Regions from separate parts of the Homo sapiens genome. Here regions 2 and 3 are each linked to region 1. Evidence: fine-mapped expression QTL. A gene starts in region 1. Each other region holds a variant in brackets. All regions are shown on one strand. Distances are from middle to middle.

The links. PIP is the estimated chance that this variant, and not a neighbour inherited with it, causes the effect. A credible set is the group of variants that fine-mapping cannot tell apart.
Region 2: its variant is the best candidate, but not a certain one, in a credible set for the expression of EVI2A in monocytes (Fairfax 2014, PIP 0.85).
Region 3: its variant is the best candidate, but not a certain one, in a credible set for the expression of EVI2A in whole blood (INTERVAL, PIP 0.54).

The regions. Positions count from the first base shown.
Region 1 is chr17:31,318,901-31,324,120 of GRCh38, reverse strand. EVI2A (ecotropic viral integration site 2A) reads left to right here and starts at 2,499. Exons shown (of 2, transcript NM_014210.4): 1 at 2,499-2,626; 2 at 5,098-5,220. The coding sequence starts at 5,108. The region is part of intron 36 of NF1 (neurofibromin 1); the gene reads right to left.
Region 2 is chr17:31,262,394-31,267,624 of GRCh38, reverse strand. It overlaps NF1 (neurofibromin 1), which reads right to left. Exons shown (of 58, transcript NM_001042492.3): 36 at 2,286-2,396. Among named protein-coding and RNA genes, the nearest start is that of OMG, 32 kb to the left of the region's middle. The variant G/TG (reference allele first, on the strand shown) is at 3,214.
Region 3 is chr17:31,381,680-31,386,910 of GRCh38, reverse strand. No RefSeq gene overlaps it. Among named protein-coding and RNA genes, the nearest start is that of RAB11FIP4, 7.4 kb to the left of the region's middle. The variant A/C (reference allele first, on the strand shown) is at 3,166.

The DNA of each region.
Region 1 (5,220 bases):
ACTCCAGCCTGGGCGATAGAGCGAGATTCCAACAAAAACAAAAACAAAAAAAACCAAAAAAATCACACATACTCCATTAATATGTACAAATTATCATGTATCAATAAAAAACTTCACCTCAGAATTTTTAATCTTGTTGGGAGAAAATAAGATAAAAATATGACAAGTCAAATGATTTTAAAACAACACAAATATTTCAAGATAGAAGATATGAGGTAGAAAGTAATCACTTATCAAAGGAAATGCAGAGAAAATACTGTTATTAAGACAAAGGAGAGAGAGAGAGAGATTAACACAAACTGGGCAGTCAGTGAAAGCTACATAGAAGATACAGTGGCTGAATCAGGTAAGGAGGAATGCAGACTCAGCAAGAGGACTGGGCAGGCCTTATGGAGAAAGGCAAAAAGGAAAAGAAACAGGTAACTAGATGTGTTGAAGAGACAGCTAGTCTAGCCAGAATGGAGGATTCAGGTAGAGAAGTTTTGAGAGATAAAGCTGGGAAAATACAGAATAGTCAAATTGTGGAGAGACCATAACTGCCCAACCAAAGGGCTTAGGTTTTCTACTAGGGGCTCACCATTTCTCAGCATATGTTCTGTGGACTACTGGCGTCAGAATCAACTGTGGTGCTTGATAAAAATGCAGTTTCCTGGTCCCAACCTGGACCTACTAAATATGGATCTATGTAGTGGGGCCTGGAAATTTTTATCTTTTTTTTTTTTCCCTTAACTCAGGCTGGACTGCAGTGGCACGGTCACAGCTCACTGTAGCCTTGACCTCCCCAGGCTCAGGTGATCCTCCCACCTCAGCCTCCTGAGTAGCTGGGACTACAGATAAGCGCCACCATGCCCGGCTAGTTTTTTGTTTTTGTTTTTTTGTATTTTTTGTAGAGACAGGATTTTGCCATGCTGCCCAGGCTGGTCTCGAATTTCTGTGGCTCAAGTAATCCTCCCGCCTCAGCCTCCCAAAGTGCTGAGATTACAGGTGTGAGCCACCATGTCCTGCTTTTATAATTTTTAAACAATCTTCTCATCTGATGTTTATGTACACAAACATTTCTGAATCATTGTTGTATGTATTAGGGAACTGTTCAACCGGTTTTATTTTCCCTTAAAGAAAGGGTGGTATGACCAAAGACAGTGATGTATACAAGATATAAGAAGGATTCAGGGCTACCGAAAAGGCACTGTAGAGTCTAGGTATGACCTGATAAGGATCTAAAATAGTACTGTTGACAGTAAAAACAGGGAAAAAGAAACTGATCCAACAATATGAAGGAAGGACCAACATGATTCAAAGTCTGATCAGGACTGAGAGGACTTAAATTAAAATGATGTGTTGTATACTAAGCCTCTGATATTAGAATGTTGCTATCATGAACAGAAACAAGAAGACTGTCACAGGCAGCCTCCTTTAAAGAAAAAATAAAGTTCTTTTTATTTCATTAATTTAATTAATTTTTAAGAGATGGAGTCTTGCTATGTTACCCAGGCTGGATTTGAACTCCTGGGCTCCACCAGTGATCCTCCTACCTCAACCTACCTAGTAGCTGGGATTACAGATATGTGCTGCCATATCCAGTTCTTTTTTTTTTTTTTTTTTTTTTTTTTTTTTTTTTTGAGACAGAGTCTTACTCTGTCTTCCTGGCTGGAGTGCAGTGGCATGATCTTAGCTCATGCAGCCAAGATCTCATGATCTCTGCAGCCTCCACGTCCCGGGTTCAAGCTATTCTCCTGTCTCAGCCTCCCAAGTAGGTGGGACTACAGGTGCATGCTACCCTGCCTGGTTAATTTTTATATTTTTAGTAGAGACAGGTTTTCTCTATGTTGGCCAGGCTGGTCTTGAACTCCTGGCCTCAAGTGATCTGCCTGCGTCAACCCTCCCAACGTGCTGGGATTACAGGTGTGAGCCACCGTGTTCAGCCCATACCTAGTTCTTAAAGTCTGTTTCAGTCATGTTAAACTTGAGGTGATGACAGGATGTTTGACAGTTGTGTGTGTGTGTGTGTGTGTGTGTGTGTGTGTGTATACACACACTACACCACACGAAAGCATTTTCTGTCCCATATAATCTAAGTTTACTAGATATTTTCTCAAATAATTGCTGCAGTTCCACAATTGTTACATTATCTGATCAGTATCCCATGGACTCCAAACTCACATTTTCAAATCAGTCTGTAGATTTCAAATAAGTCTTTTAGAGAAGATTTGAAATGGAAGATACCATTTCAAAACCTCTTTTGAATGACACTAAAGCATGTAGCAGGCCTATAGAATGAGCATACTGTCAAAAGGCATTAAGTGGAAAACCCTCCCTGCTCTGGAGGCGGGGATTGGTTCTACAAAGCCTCCTGTCATGCCAGTGGCCAACTAGAGAAGTTGGAGCTTTTTCGTTGTTTTTTTTTTTTTCCCTCCTGTGACATGTGCTTTAGTTGCAGTGGAAAGGAAATGTGTCATCTGTGGTTTGGTTTTAAAAGTGGAAAACTAGCTGCACATATCCTTTTTTACTGCAGATTTACTTTAAGGCTCATATTCTCCAAGTCTATTCTGCTTTAAAAAGAAGACAAGAAAAGAAGTGGTTTATCAAAATCACGTTATAATCAGATTTTGACCAAGCATTTTGTAAGGTAGGTCATATATATACGGCTTTTCTTATGCCTTTTCACTTCTAACGTCTGACAGATTAGTGTTCGAGGAAATGCTATCAAAGTGTGTAAGAATCTCACTAACAAACTAGAATTGTGACTGAAAATGTATACTTTTTTTTTCTGTCCTGTTACATAAATTTTAAGTTAGAAATGAAAAAATTTGCCATCGCCATGGAGTTTTAAATTAGGATTACGAAGGATCTAAGTTTGGTTTCCTCAAGTAAACTGGAAATGTTTTGTTATTTTTCAAAAGTTAAAAAATAAATTTCTCATTACTAATGCTTGGACATTACAAATTCTACTGAAAATAAATTCTACTGAAAATGATCAGATATAAGAAAACTTCTGATAACACAACCTGGCCTCCAAGGCATAAACTGGAGTAAAAACAGTCCTCAATTCTCAGGCATTTGTAAGGGCAAGAGAAAGTCTCATTTTGTCATACAGTTTGTTTATTTGGGCACTGCAGTACATCTGGCTGAAGACAATCAACAGCAGGCCTATTATCTGTTCCGTGGTAAGCACTGTTAAAATGTGTACCAATACTATGATGTATACTACACTGTTAATGAACTAATGTGAAAAGAATAATCTACTTTAAATCATTCTAGCATCTAATACAGAAGTCCAGTCTAGTATAAAAAGATGGAAATTACTTGCTAATCCAATTTCAAGTATTTCTTTTTGTGGAAGAATCATGAAATATCCAAAGATTTATGTCACTAAACTTAAAAATTAAAGCTGAACACTATTATACAAAAGCCAGTGACTTGGGCCTTTAATTGTCTACTAAAGGTCATAATCTAAAAAGTAATCTTAATCCTGGAATATTTAATAGTTTTTCCTCCCTACTATTAATATGAAATATAGTCTCCAGTTAGCATTGTTTATTACATGCTACTTTTGTTTGCATAACTCAACGTATCACATTTCTTATTTTCAATTTCTGTATTTTAATAGTATACAAATGTCAGCCAATGACATATAACAACCATTTCTTATAAAACCTTGATGTTCAAAAGCCTGACTAGCAGTGGCATCCATGTTGCTTAGGAGTTGGTTTGGAAACAAAGACTTTCAGGCCCTACCTATACTAGCTAGGTAAGAATCTGCCTTTTTTTTTTTTTTTTAAATAAAAGGACTCCTAAGTACATTTGAGAAGAATTTCTATAGCATACGTAGGGTTCTTAACCAGGCAATTTCATTTAGTAAATCTCAGGAGAACAATATAGTTTTGCTTTTAGTTCATTCAAATAAATGCTAACAATAAAATACTCCTTTCAAAAGTAGCTCAAGACAAACTGGTATATTATTATAAGATACCTTAATAATGATTATAAATCTTTCCTGCTGGGTTAGCAGTACATGGAACTGTTAAATTCTAAGATATGCCATTTCTATTTAAATCAATCATTTGGTAGATTTAAAAAATGTATAATATAACTTGTCTCCTTTTTGTACTAGTTTCCAGCAAGCTCAGGGCCAAAGCGGAAATTCAACATTTTCAATTATCTGTTGAGATGCTTATAACCTGCCACTTCATCCCAAATCATCAAGATCCTGATGCTCTATTTCTATTTTATTACACATTTTTTTTTACAATTATGTCAAAATCAGAAAAAATGCTAGGTATAAATGATGCTTTAAAAGAAAACCCAGCAACTTTTGTTGAACTTTTAAGTCTACTCAGAGGAAATTTGCTGTTTTTTTTTTTTTTTCTTCAGATTTTTAGGTTGAGAAAACTGGTATGCCTTTGCCTTCAGAAAGACACAGTCAGTCCAGGGAAATATAAATGAAAAGAGACAACCACCACAGTAAAATTGCGTTCACAAATACACTTACAAATGTATTTCTAAGTACCAGCTTTATTCTAAGCTTCAAGATGAACACCCAAGAAAAAAAAAGAACACCTTGAATTTCTATTTGAAGTTCAGTTTCTTTTGGTTGCTACCAAACTTCCCCTCTTTCCACCAAAAAAATTTGCATTTATTTCATACATGAAGCAAGAAGCTCAAGGCCACATTTCTTCTGTAAAGATTGGTGACAGGTTAGAGGGTGGGTAGTTTCTGTAAGAATGATCCTTAATTTTTTTTTTTTTTTAAAGAAGGAATCAGAAAAGTAAAAGCAGAACTAACTGACTCAAAGCAGAAGTCTAGCACGCTTCAAAGGAAGAAAACTATATAAAGCCATGATAGTCCACTTAAAATGATTAATATTTATTTGTAATGCTAACTTCTAGCATCTAAAAGTGTTAATAGAAATTAAAATGCTTCTTCATACATAGCTGAATAGAAAAGAAATTTAGTTGAGAAGGAATTCAGGGTAGCGAATATTAGGCATAAGCTTGTAGTTTACTTGTAACATCTCAACACTATCTTTTAACTACAATTACCAAAACTAGGATCCATTATTCTTTCACAAACTAACAAATTATATTGCTATCCCAACAGATTGCCAAGCATGCCCACGGACATGGAACACACAGGACATTACCTACATCTTGCCTTTCTGATGACAACAGTTTTTTCTTTGTCTCCTGGAACAAAAGCAAACTATACCCGTCTGTGGGCTAA
Region 2 (5,231 bases), 57 kb after region 1:
GAAGTCAAACCCAAGTGCTCTTTGACAAAACTGACGGCATACAGACAGACAAGACCTTCATAATGGAGTAAATGGATGCTCTGCTCTGATATACTGTGTACTCATCTGTCTTGGAGCTAGGCTTCACACCAGGTGAAAATGAAGGTCAGGAGGAGCTCCAGTAGGTCTAAGTAAGAAACTAAAAGGATTGAAAATCTGAAACTGACAGTGCCATATCCCCCAAAAAAAGAATGAAAGAAAAAAAGAAAATCTCAAATTTACTCCTTACACAACTTTATAGGTCACAAAACACTTTATAGGAGAGGTAGACAGTTTTTATAAGCACATACCCCAGCTTTAACATATGAAGCAACAGATTTGGAAAAATAAACTTATCTAAGATTATGCAGCTAAGGCCAGGTGCAGTGGCTCACACCTGTAATTCCCAGCACTTTGGGAGGCCGAGGCAGGCAGATCACCTGAGGTCAGGAGTTCAAGACCAGCCTGGCCAATATGGTGAAACCCCATCTCTACTAAAAATACAAAATCAGCCACGCATGGTTCTACATGTCTGCAATCCCAGCTACTCGGGAGGCTAAGACAGGAGAATCACTTGAAGCCAGGAGGTGGAGGTTGCAGTGAGCCGAGATCGCTCCATTGCACTCCAGCCTGGGTGACAAGAGTGAAACTCCATTTCAAAAAAAAAAAAAAGATTATGCAGCTAATAAGCAGCAGAGCTGAGAATTCTTAGCATTCTCAGGCCACAAGACTCAATAGGTTTCATGGAAACCAAACTGATTGAATCTCACTAAGGGATCTGCAGCAGGTCCAATCTTTCCTTTAGCTTTTTCTAGATCACCACAGAGAGGGAATACAAATATAACAGTTTCTGATTCCGAAAAAAAAAAACGCAGCTTTGTTTTCCAGAAATCTTTGCTATTTGTAAACTAATAAGATTTTAAAGAAGAGGGGGAAACACATCTTCTACCTCCCTTACCAATGTTTGCTTTTTACTTAGACAACAACGGAAAAGTAAAAATATCCTGGTTGTATTAAAGGTTGGGGTTAGAATACAAATATGGTTCATCTCAAACGCAAACGAAAATTAAAATGATCTTAGGCAATTTAGAAATGGCAACTGAGATGAGAGCTGGAGAGAGGCCTTTCATGGGAAGGTGAGCAGGGGTTACTTAGAGTTGTTAAAGGGCAGGGGGGTGGCGGGAGGTTCAATGCAATTTTCTTACTTTCTTGATTCCCTAATACTCCAGTCCTTTGGACTTCTTGGTCTTAAGGCTATCTGAATGACCCTATTAGACAAGTTTCCCATCTTCCACTGATCTTCCTTCACCGTCTCTCTACTATTTCTCAACCTTGATTTGTTTCCTACACACTGCCACCTGTGGCCAGCAAGCTGACTAACAATGTAAGTCTACTAACTTAATGGTCATGGATGTTAAATACTGTTAAATTCAGGAAACTGGTAAAGATTAAGTCTATAACTAATGAGTAGCAGAACTAGGTCTAAACATGGTCCTTGAGATTCCAAAGTCAGTGGTTTCTCTATGTATCATGTTGTCTCTAAGGCTCAATTACCATGAATGTATGTCATGGTAAATGGGAAAAAGTAAAACTGACCAAATAACGTCACAGATTGAGTTTTCAAAAGGAAGGTAAAATGAAGCAAAAAAGAAAAGACAATGGTAGGGAAAGCAAGGCAAGCATCATACCTATTATTAAGGAAGAGCTCACAACATTTCCAGAAAGGCTTTCTAGGAACTAGCCTCAACTGAGGGCAGCATGAACAAGCACCGTTTTCCAGGCCACCCCTTGCACCATCTTCATAGAGATTTTTCACCACTCCTTTGAATTATTTTTTAAATCATCCTGATGCTGTCTTACACAGCATATTTTTAAAAGTTCTCAGAAATAGGCTCTTATAGTTTTATTTCTTCCTTTAAAAAAAGTTCCCAGTTATCATGTTGTGAGTACTATTTAATCAGAATATACTTGAAAACAAAAGATTCTTTGTGGGTTTTTAACTCTTGGTAATTAATCCATTGCAGGCAGTATTTTAAAAAATGATGTAGGACAGAGTAAGCAATATGAAATGGGTAGTATGAAAAGCAGCTACTAGATACCGACCATCATTTTAGGAAACGCAGGCTATTTACCCTGCTATATGCTCCCAAGTAAACTTGTCTTCAATTCCTGTTAAGTCAACTGGGAAAAACCAAACTTGCCATCTCTCTATATTTGCTATAATTTAAAAAATTCTGTTAAGAGACCCAAAACATAGTATTTCTTACCTCCGTGCAACATAATAAAAAATAGGATTCCCAGCTTTGGAAGTCCCAGCTTGGTAGAAAATACTTAACGTTTTCAAAGCCTTGAATTCTTCTTTTTCATGTACCTGATGCCTAAAAGAAAAATAACAGAGTAATTATGAGGCTTTATGTTGTCTACTGAGTATGTAAAAAAGTCTATAATTGGATAAACAATAAAATACTAAAATGAAAAAATATTTTAAAAGCAACAGGCATTCTAAAGGGTAATTTGGCAACATGCACCAAAAATTTCAAGGTATTACTCTTTGAACCACAAAAGCACTTTTAGGACTATTCTAAGAGAACTACTGGGCAAGAATATTAACCATAGGATTGGTTTTACTCATGACATTTTTGTCCCAGACAGAAGTTTATGATTTTTTAAATAATTCATTTTATCAATCTTTTCTAGTTTATGGATTTTGAATGGATGAAAAAGGCCTTGCTTTGCTCATTTTTTTTGATTTATGGAAGTTTATCATAAATGGTATGAAAATATTTTTCCAAATCATTACTCAGTTTTATCAAAACCATTTATTGAAAGTCCATCCTAATCTCGATTCTGAATACCAGCTTTAGCATATATTATGTTCCCATATGTATTAAAGCCTGGTTTAATTTTTATATAGTTTGCTCAAGACTCAGTGTGCTTCTTCAACCTCAAGATTCATGTCATTCATCAACTCTAGAAAACATACATCCATTAGCCTTTCAAATATTACTTCTTCCCATTCTCACTGAGCTCAGTTTCTAGGGAACACCTACTAGACATATTTTGAACCTCCTCATTTTATCTTCTGCATCTCCTAACCTCTTTCATATTTTCCATTTATCTGTCTATACTGACTGTATGCTAGGTAATTTGCTTAGAAACTAGCTTCAGCTATAAATTTAATTTTTTTTTTTTTTT[G/TG]AGATGGAGTTTTGCTCTTGTTGACCAGGCTGGAGTGCAGTGGCACGATCTCGGCTCACTGCAACCTCTGCCTCCCGGGTTCAAATGATTCTCCTGCCTTGGCCTCCCAAGTAGCTGGGATTACAAGTGCCCACCACCACACCTGGCTAATTCATATATATATATTTATTTATTTAGTAGAGATGGGGTTTCGCCATGCTGGCCAGGCTTGCCTCGAACTCCTGACCTCAGGTGATCTACCCACCTCGGCCTCCCAAAATGCTGGGATTACAGGCGTGAGTCACCGCACTCGGCCTAAATTTTTTTAAGTACACATATTTTCTTTTACACCTAGTATTTCTATGAGCCTTATGTCTTGGGAAGAGATTGCATTAGCTCAGCCCATCATGCTGCTGGTACCAGGTCAGAATTTTAAAAATATTAATGGAAACAACCTAGATATCATTTGATAGGAGAAACAAATGTACATGTGCATAGATAAATGACTGGGAGACTATTCACCAAACGTTAAGTGAAGTATTCTGAGAGGGAGGATAAACAATTTTTAATTTTTTTAACTTTCTTTAGATTTCTATATCAAGTAATTTAATAATTTTTTAAATAACTGAGAATATTATAAAGCTACCTTCATTTTTTTTAAAAAAAAGAAAATGGGTCTCCAAGAGCATCAGTGGGAATTTAGAACAAAAATAAGATCCAACATTTATTAATTACTTTACAAGTACCAGATACTATGCTAAGTATATTATATATATTGGATTACTTAATCTTCAAAAGCACAAAAGATTGCTTTGTAAGGGAAGGTAGGATCTCAGAAAAAAGGAATAATAAAAATATTTTTCTAGAAAAATGGCTAGGATGTCCTCAGTGATGTCAAATTTAAAAACTGTTTTGATTCATTCATTTTTATATTTATATTTATTTATATTTATATTTACTTATATTTCTTTTTACTTATTTATATTTTTACTTATTTCTTTATTTATAGACAAGGTCTCATTCTGTCACCTAGGCTGGAAATGCACTGGTGCAATCACAGTTCACTGCATCCTCAAGCAATCCTCCCACCTCAGCCTCCCAGGTAGCTGGGACCACAGGTGCGTACCATCACACCTGGTTAATATTTTATTATTTGTAGAGATGGAGTCCTGCTATGTTGCCCAGGGTGGTCTCAAACTCCTGGGCTCAAGCAATCCTCCTGCCTTGGCCTCCCAAAATGCTGGGATTACAGGCATGAGCCACTGTGCCCAATCTATCTATCTTATCTATCTTATCTTATCTTATCTTATCTATCTATCTATCTACCTACCTACCTACCTACCTACCTACCTACCTATCTATCTACCTACCTACCTACCTACCTACCTACCTACCTATCTATCTATCTATCTAATAAAGACAAGGTCTCACTATGTTGCCCAGGCTGGTCTTGAACTCCTGGCCTCCAGCAATTCTCTCACCTTGGCCTCTCAAAATGTTGGGGTTATAGGTATTAGCCACCATGTCTGGCCTAAAAATAGTATTATATTTTTGTAGTATATAATTTTCAATTAGGTAATGTGAATAGTCTGTATGGAAAATATGCCCTTAATTACATAGGAATAAACATTTGTTACACTAAAAAAAATCTAGTAGAGCTAAAAATAAAAATTAATTTGGAAAGGACACTATATACCCATACATTCTTATGTTTATACATTCTTTCATATATTCATATATTCTTTTAACAGTATCAATGGTTTGGAGTTATATGTACAAAACCATGACCTGTAAGTAATACAACTAACAACAGGCACTTACAATTCAAGGCATATTATATACAAATCTTTAACTTCTCATCATCAGATTCTGTTTTATTCTGTTTTGGAACATACTATGAACATAGCACTCAAATCACAGACACGAAGGAGCACTTACTAAGCATAAAGTCCTGTGAAAGGTACTTTAAAAGATTCAGCAAACTACTCTCACTGTATCATCACAGAGTAAGTGTCTAACAATGAGGATCTTTTCATTCA
Region 3 (5,231 bases), 63 kb before region 1:
GAATATCATGTGGAAGTTATCAAAGATTATGAAGAGCCAGGCTTTGGAATTCAAAACAGCTGAGCTGGGCACCAACATCTGTTGCTCTTTTAGCCCCATGACTCTGGTCAGGTTAATTTCTCTAAGCTTCAGTTTTTCTACCTTGTAGAGGTCCTTCAGGCTTTTAATTTAAAAAAGATTGCGTCATGCCTCGCCCAGCGCTTGGCACAGTACCTGGCACCTGGGTGGTGATTATGTGTGTCAGTATGGAGCAGTTTAGAACCAGTCTAAAAGGGGGAACATTTCTGTATTTTCATCTGTGAGCCTTGACTTCATTGTCCATGTTGTCTGGAAATGGGGCAGGATTCAGTTACTTCCTGTTCACAACCTGCTGGGTTTTTTTAAACCCATGAATAATTATCACTTTGAAGGGGAAGAAGGTGCCGTGAACTTATTTTCCTTCTTCACTGATCCCAGAATATGTTTCTGTGAGCAAAAGCAGAGAGGCCCCTGCTTGGAGACACAGCCAGCCCTGCCTGTGGAGTGCTGAGGACCCTGGCTGGACTAGGGCACACTTGGGGTGCAGGGGGGCACCTTGAGACCTCATCTTTCCTCTGCTGCATGAGCTGTTGATGTGAGGGGTATCCAGAATCTTCTCTGACCCTTAGAAGCAGGACCGGCTGATTGCTAAAATTCCTTCCGGGATTCTAAGAAGAAATGCCAAAACCTAACTTATTCTACCCAACTGGGCTCCAGATCCTTCTGTCAGCTGCAGAAATGGCCCCTGAAACTAACTTCCAGGCAGGGCACCAATATTTCCCTCCTGGCTTAGGAAGCAGTGTCCTTGGTGAGTCAAATCCACTCACATTCCCTGGCTTTGAGCCTTCTCTACTGCCCACTTCTGCCTAAAAGAAAAACTCAATCCTCAGGGTGAGCGGCAAGCAGGAAGGCCCTTTACAGCCTGATGCTCTCCATTCTGTAAAACATGGCTGGGCAGTAACATCATCTACTATACTCAGTTTACATTTATTGAGCACTTACTATATCCCAGGCATTGTGTGGCATAGACTCCAAGACAGTGACTCAACATGGAATTGATCAGTGAAATGCCTGGCTTGCCTTGCATATGCTGTTCCCTCTGCCTGGATTGTCCTCCCTCCACCACCCCCACTGCCATCCTTCAAATGCCACCCCCTCCAAGAAGCCTTCCCTGAGTCAGCTGCCCTTACTGCTCTGCCCTCACAGAACTTTGCAGACTCTACAGTGTGTTCGTGATGCACACACAGGGATGCTCTGCCCATCAGCTGTCTCCCCTGGCCAGGGCGCCCAGATGTCTTCTCAGGGATGATGGGATCATTCCAAGATTAGGAAAACAGACACAGGGTCAAGAGCCGAGAGTTAAGAGGCAGGTGAAGGAAGTGCTGTCAGAGCCATAGGAGGAGCGGGAACAGGTGCCTGGAAGCCAAAAGAGGTGAGGAAAATGACTGAATTATAGTTAAATGTGCACATCCTTCACCATGTATTTCTTTTTTTTTTGAGATGGAGTCTCACTCTCGTTGCCTAGGCTGCAGTGCAATGGCGTGACCTCAGCTCACTGCAACCTCTGCAGTGTTCAAGCGATTCTCCTGCCTCAGCCTCCCGAGTAGCTGGGATTACAAGGTGCCTGTCACCATGCCTGGCTTTTTTTTTTTTTTTTTTTTTTTTTTTTTAGATGGAGTTTCGCTCTTGTTGCCCAGGCGGGAGTGCAATGGTGCGATCTCAGCTCACTGCAACCTCTGTCTCCCAGGTTCAAAGCGATTCTTGTGCCTTAGCCTCCCAAATAGCTGGGATTACAGGCACATGCCACCATCCCTGGCTAATTTTGTACTTTTAGTAGAGACAGGGTTTCTCCGTGTTGGTCAGGCTGGTCCCGAACTCCCGACCTCAGGTGATCCACTCGCCTCGGCCTACCAAAGTGTTGGGATTACAGGCGTGAGCCACCACGCCCGGCTACTAATTTTTTGTATTTGCAGTAGAGATGGGGTTTCACCATGTTGGCCAGGCTGGTCTTGAACTCTTGACCTCAGGTGATCCACCTGCCTCAGCTTCCCAAAATGCTGGGATTACAGGCATAAGCCACAGTGCCTGGCCGCCTACGAGCTTCTTGAGAGCAAGGACCATTCCCCATCAACCTTGTTAACCTTGAAAGGTTGCAAGCTGTTGAGTAGAAGTTATAAAATAACAGTGAAGGTTTAGGGTTGGCCTACGGAGTTGACAGCAGTTCACCTGCACCACTCTAAACTAGTTATGCTGATACTCCCCTAAGGAAGGAAAACAAACCCAGCTCCCTGTAATCCGAATTAGTAAAGAGCTACCTTTTGATAAAAGGAAAAAGATAAAGGTAAAAACATCCAAGAGGTGGTAGTTAATGTAATACCTAAACTCTGCTATCATAAACATCCTTTTTAGTACAACTAAAAGTAAGCATTATCCTCATCTCTTAAAACCCTTTTTGTTTTCAAAGCAATAATCATTGTAAAATGCTTAGAAGATAGACACAAAAAGGAGTAAGTGAGCCATACATATTGTTAACATTCAATACATTTCCTTTTCTTTATCCTATGCAAAAACTATACACATATATTTGTATTTATATAATTGGGAATTAGCCCTCTTATGTGGTTTTAAAACTCTTGATTTTATTGGAAGTTCCCTCCCAAAATTTAAATATTATTAGGCCATTTTTAAAGGCTGCATAAGGAAGTGGTCAGCTTCCAGAAAGTGCTGGATGAATGTAGATAATTTAACCAATATTTTGGTTGTCTTCAGGTTTTCTGATATTATAATACTTTGATGAAAGTCTTCACTCTTTTACCATTTGTTTCTCCAGAATAGATTCCTAGATAATTACTAGGGCGAATGGTATGGACTTTTTTTTTTTTTTTTTTTTTTGAGACGGAGTTTCGCTCTTGTTGCCCAGACTGGAGTGCAATGGCGCAATCTCAGCTCACCACAGCCTCCGCCTCCCGGGTTCAAGTGATTCTTCTGCCTCAGCCTCCTGAGTAGCTGGGATTAACAGGCATGCACCACCACGCCCGGCTAATTTTGTATTTTTAGTAGAGACGGGGGTTTCTCCATGTTGGTCAGGCTGGTCTCAAACTCACGACCTCAGCTGATCCACCTGCCTCAGCCTCCTGAAGTGCTAGG[A/C]TTACAGGCATAAGCCACCACGCCCAGCCAGTATGGACATTTTTAAGGCTGGTAATACAGAGAGATGAGGCCATCTGCAGGAAGAACTCATCGCACCACATTCTTGACCTGCACCAAGTATTAGTTAAGTGTCTTTGCTAATGTGACAAGTGAAAATATGTATCAGGTATCCCATTGTTTCAGTTTGTATTTCTTTTTGTTTACTAATGAGTGTGATGACCTTTTCCATCATAAACAGGAGTTGGTACAATATTTCTGTGGATTGGCCATTCATGTTCTTTGCCCATTTTTCTTTCTGCTTAGGTTTTTTCTTTAGATGAGTTTTTATGAACTCTTTATAATTCCCTATTGGTTGGCCTTTTAATTTTGTGTGTGATTTTTTTGGACATGGGGACATTTTAATGTTAGGCAGTCAATGCGGGACCCTTAGGATTTCTGCTTTTAAGCTTACACTGCTTTTTTTTTTTTTTTTTGAGACGGAGTCCTGCTCTGTCACCCAGGCTGGAATGCAATGGCACAATCTCAGCTCGCTGCAACCTCCGCCTCCCGGGTTCAAGCAATTCTCCTATCTCAGCCTCCTGAGCAGCTGGGATTACAGGCACATGCCGCCACGCCCGAGAACGTATTGTATTTTGGTAGAGAGGCCCATGTTGCCCAGGCTGGTCTTGAACTCCTGAGCTCAGGCAATCCACCCGCCTCGGCCTCCTGAAGTGCTAGGATTACAGGCGTGAGCCACTGCACTTACACTGCTTTTAAGCTTACAAAGTCCTTCCCTATTGTAGGAGTCATTAATGTTCTTGGCCAATGTTTCCAGCTCTTTCCCTTTTGAACAGAGGAAGATAGTGATTTTTGACCCTTGTGACTTTGTGAAGCTGTGTGTCAAGTTCTGGCAATGACTGTGAAAAGTGACTGTGTATCTGTCCTCAAGCCTTTAATTGCTGATGCAAGAGCTTCCAGATGCTGCTCTGTCCAATCTAGCAGCCAGTAGCCACATGTAACTATTTACATTTATTTAATATAAAAGTTTAGTTTCCCATTCTCACTAACCACATTTCAAGTGTTCAATGGCCACATGTGGCTAGTGGCCACTGTCCTGGACAGTGCAGATATGGAACTGGTAATACAGAAAGATGAGGCCAAGTGCAGGAAGAACTCATTGCACCACATTCTGGACTGGCACCAATATTAGTTAAGTACGTCTTTGCTAATGTGACAAATGAAAATGGGACCCCTCTGTTTCAGCTTCCAGCAGAACATTTCCATCATCACAGCGGCTGGACATTACAGCCTGAGCTCCTTCCCTCTGGCATGATGGCTAGCCATTTGTAGATCAAATGAGTGAGTGATCAGAGATGGCTGATCACTCACTCTGGAGTCCCAAGACATCAGGGTGAGCAGAGCCTCCTGATAACGGGTGATGGACATGTAGCAGAGGTGAGAAATAAGCTTTTGTGGCTTTGAAGCCAATACACTTTGGGAGTTACTCATGCTTGTCTTTTTAAATAAAAAAATCAAAGCATAATCTGGACCTTCTAGCCTGTTCCACTTTATATTTACTCTAATTACCATTAGTATTTAAGCATTTAAAAATTTGTTTTACTACCTAATAAGGAAGTTTTCGACAACCCGTTGTTAGCCATGCTTTCCTGTTTATTCCACAAGGTGAAGAATATTTTCCAAAGATCATTTTGTCTGGATACACTCTCTTCTTGTTGGCATCTTGATCAGAATTGTATTAAGCCAGTTCATTTATTTGGGAAGATCTGGCATTCAACGATATTCAGCTTTCCAACCCAGGACTGTGGTCTGTCTCTCCATTTGCTGGAGTCTCCTTTAAGCCCAGCTTCCTCACATGCCTGCGTGCTGAGCAGTGCTGTGTGGAGAAAAATAAGCAGCAATGAGAGAAAACTGAGGACAACATAGTGACTTTTATAAAGCAAAACTAATTTCTTTTAAAGAACTGTACTTTATCCTGTGATTCCCTCCCCCACTACTCAGAGTTGAAATGGCGTTTTACAAAAAAACTATGTTAGATATATTTTTTTCTTGTTTCTAAATGCATAAGT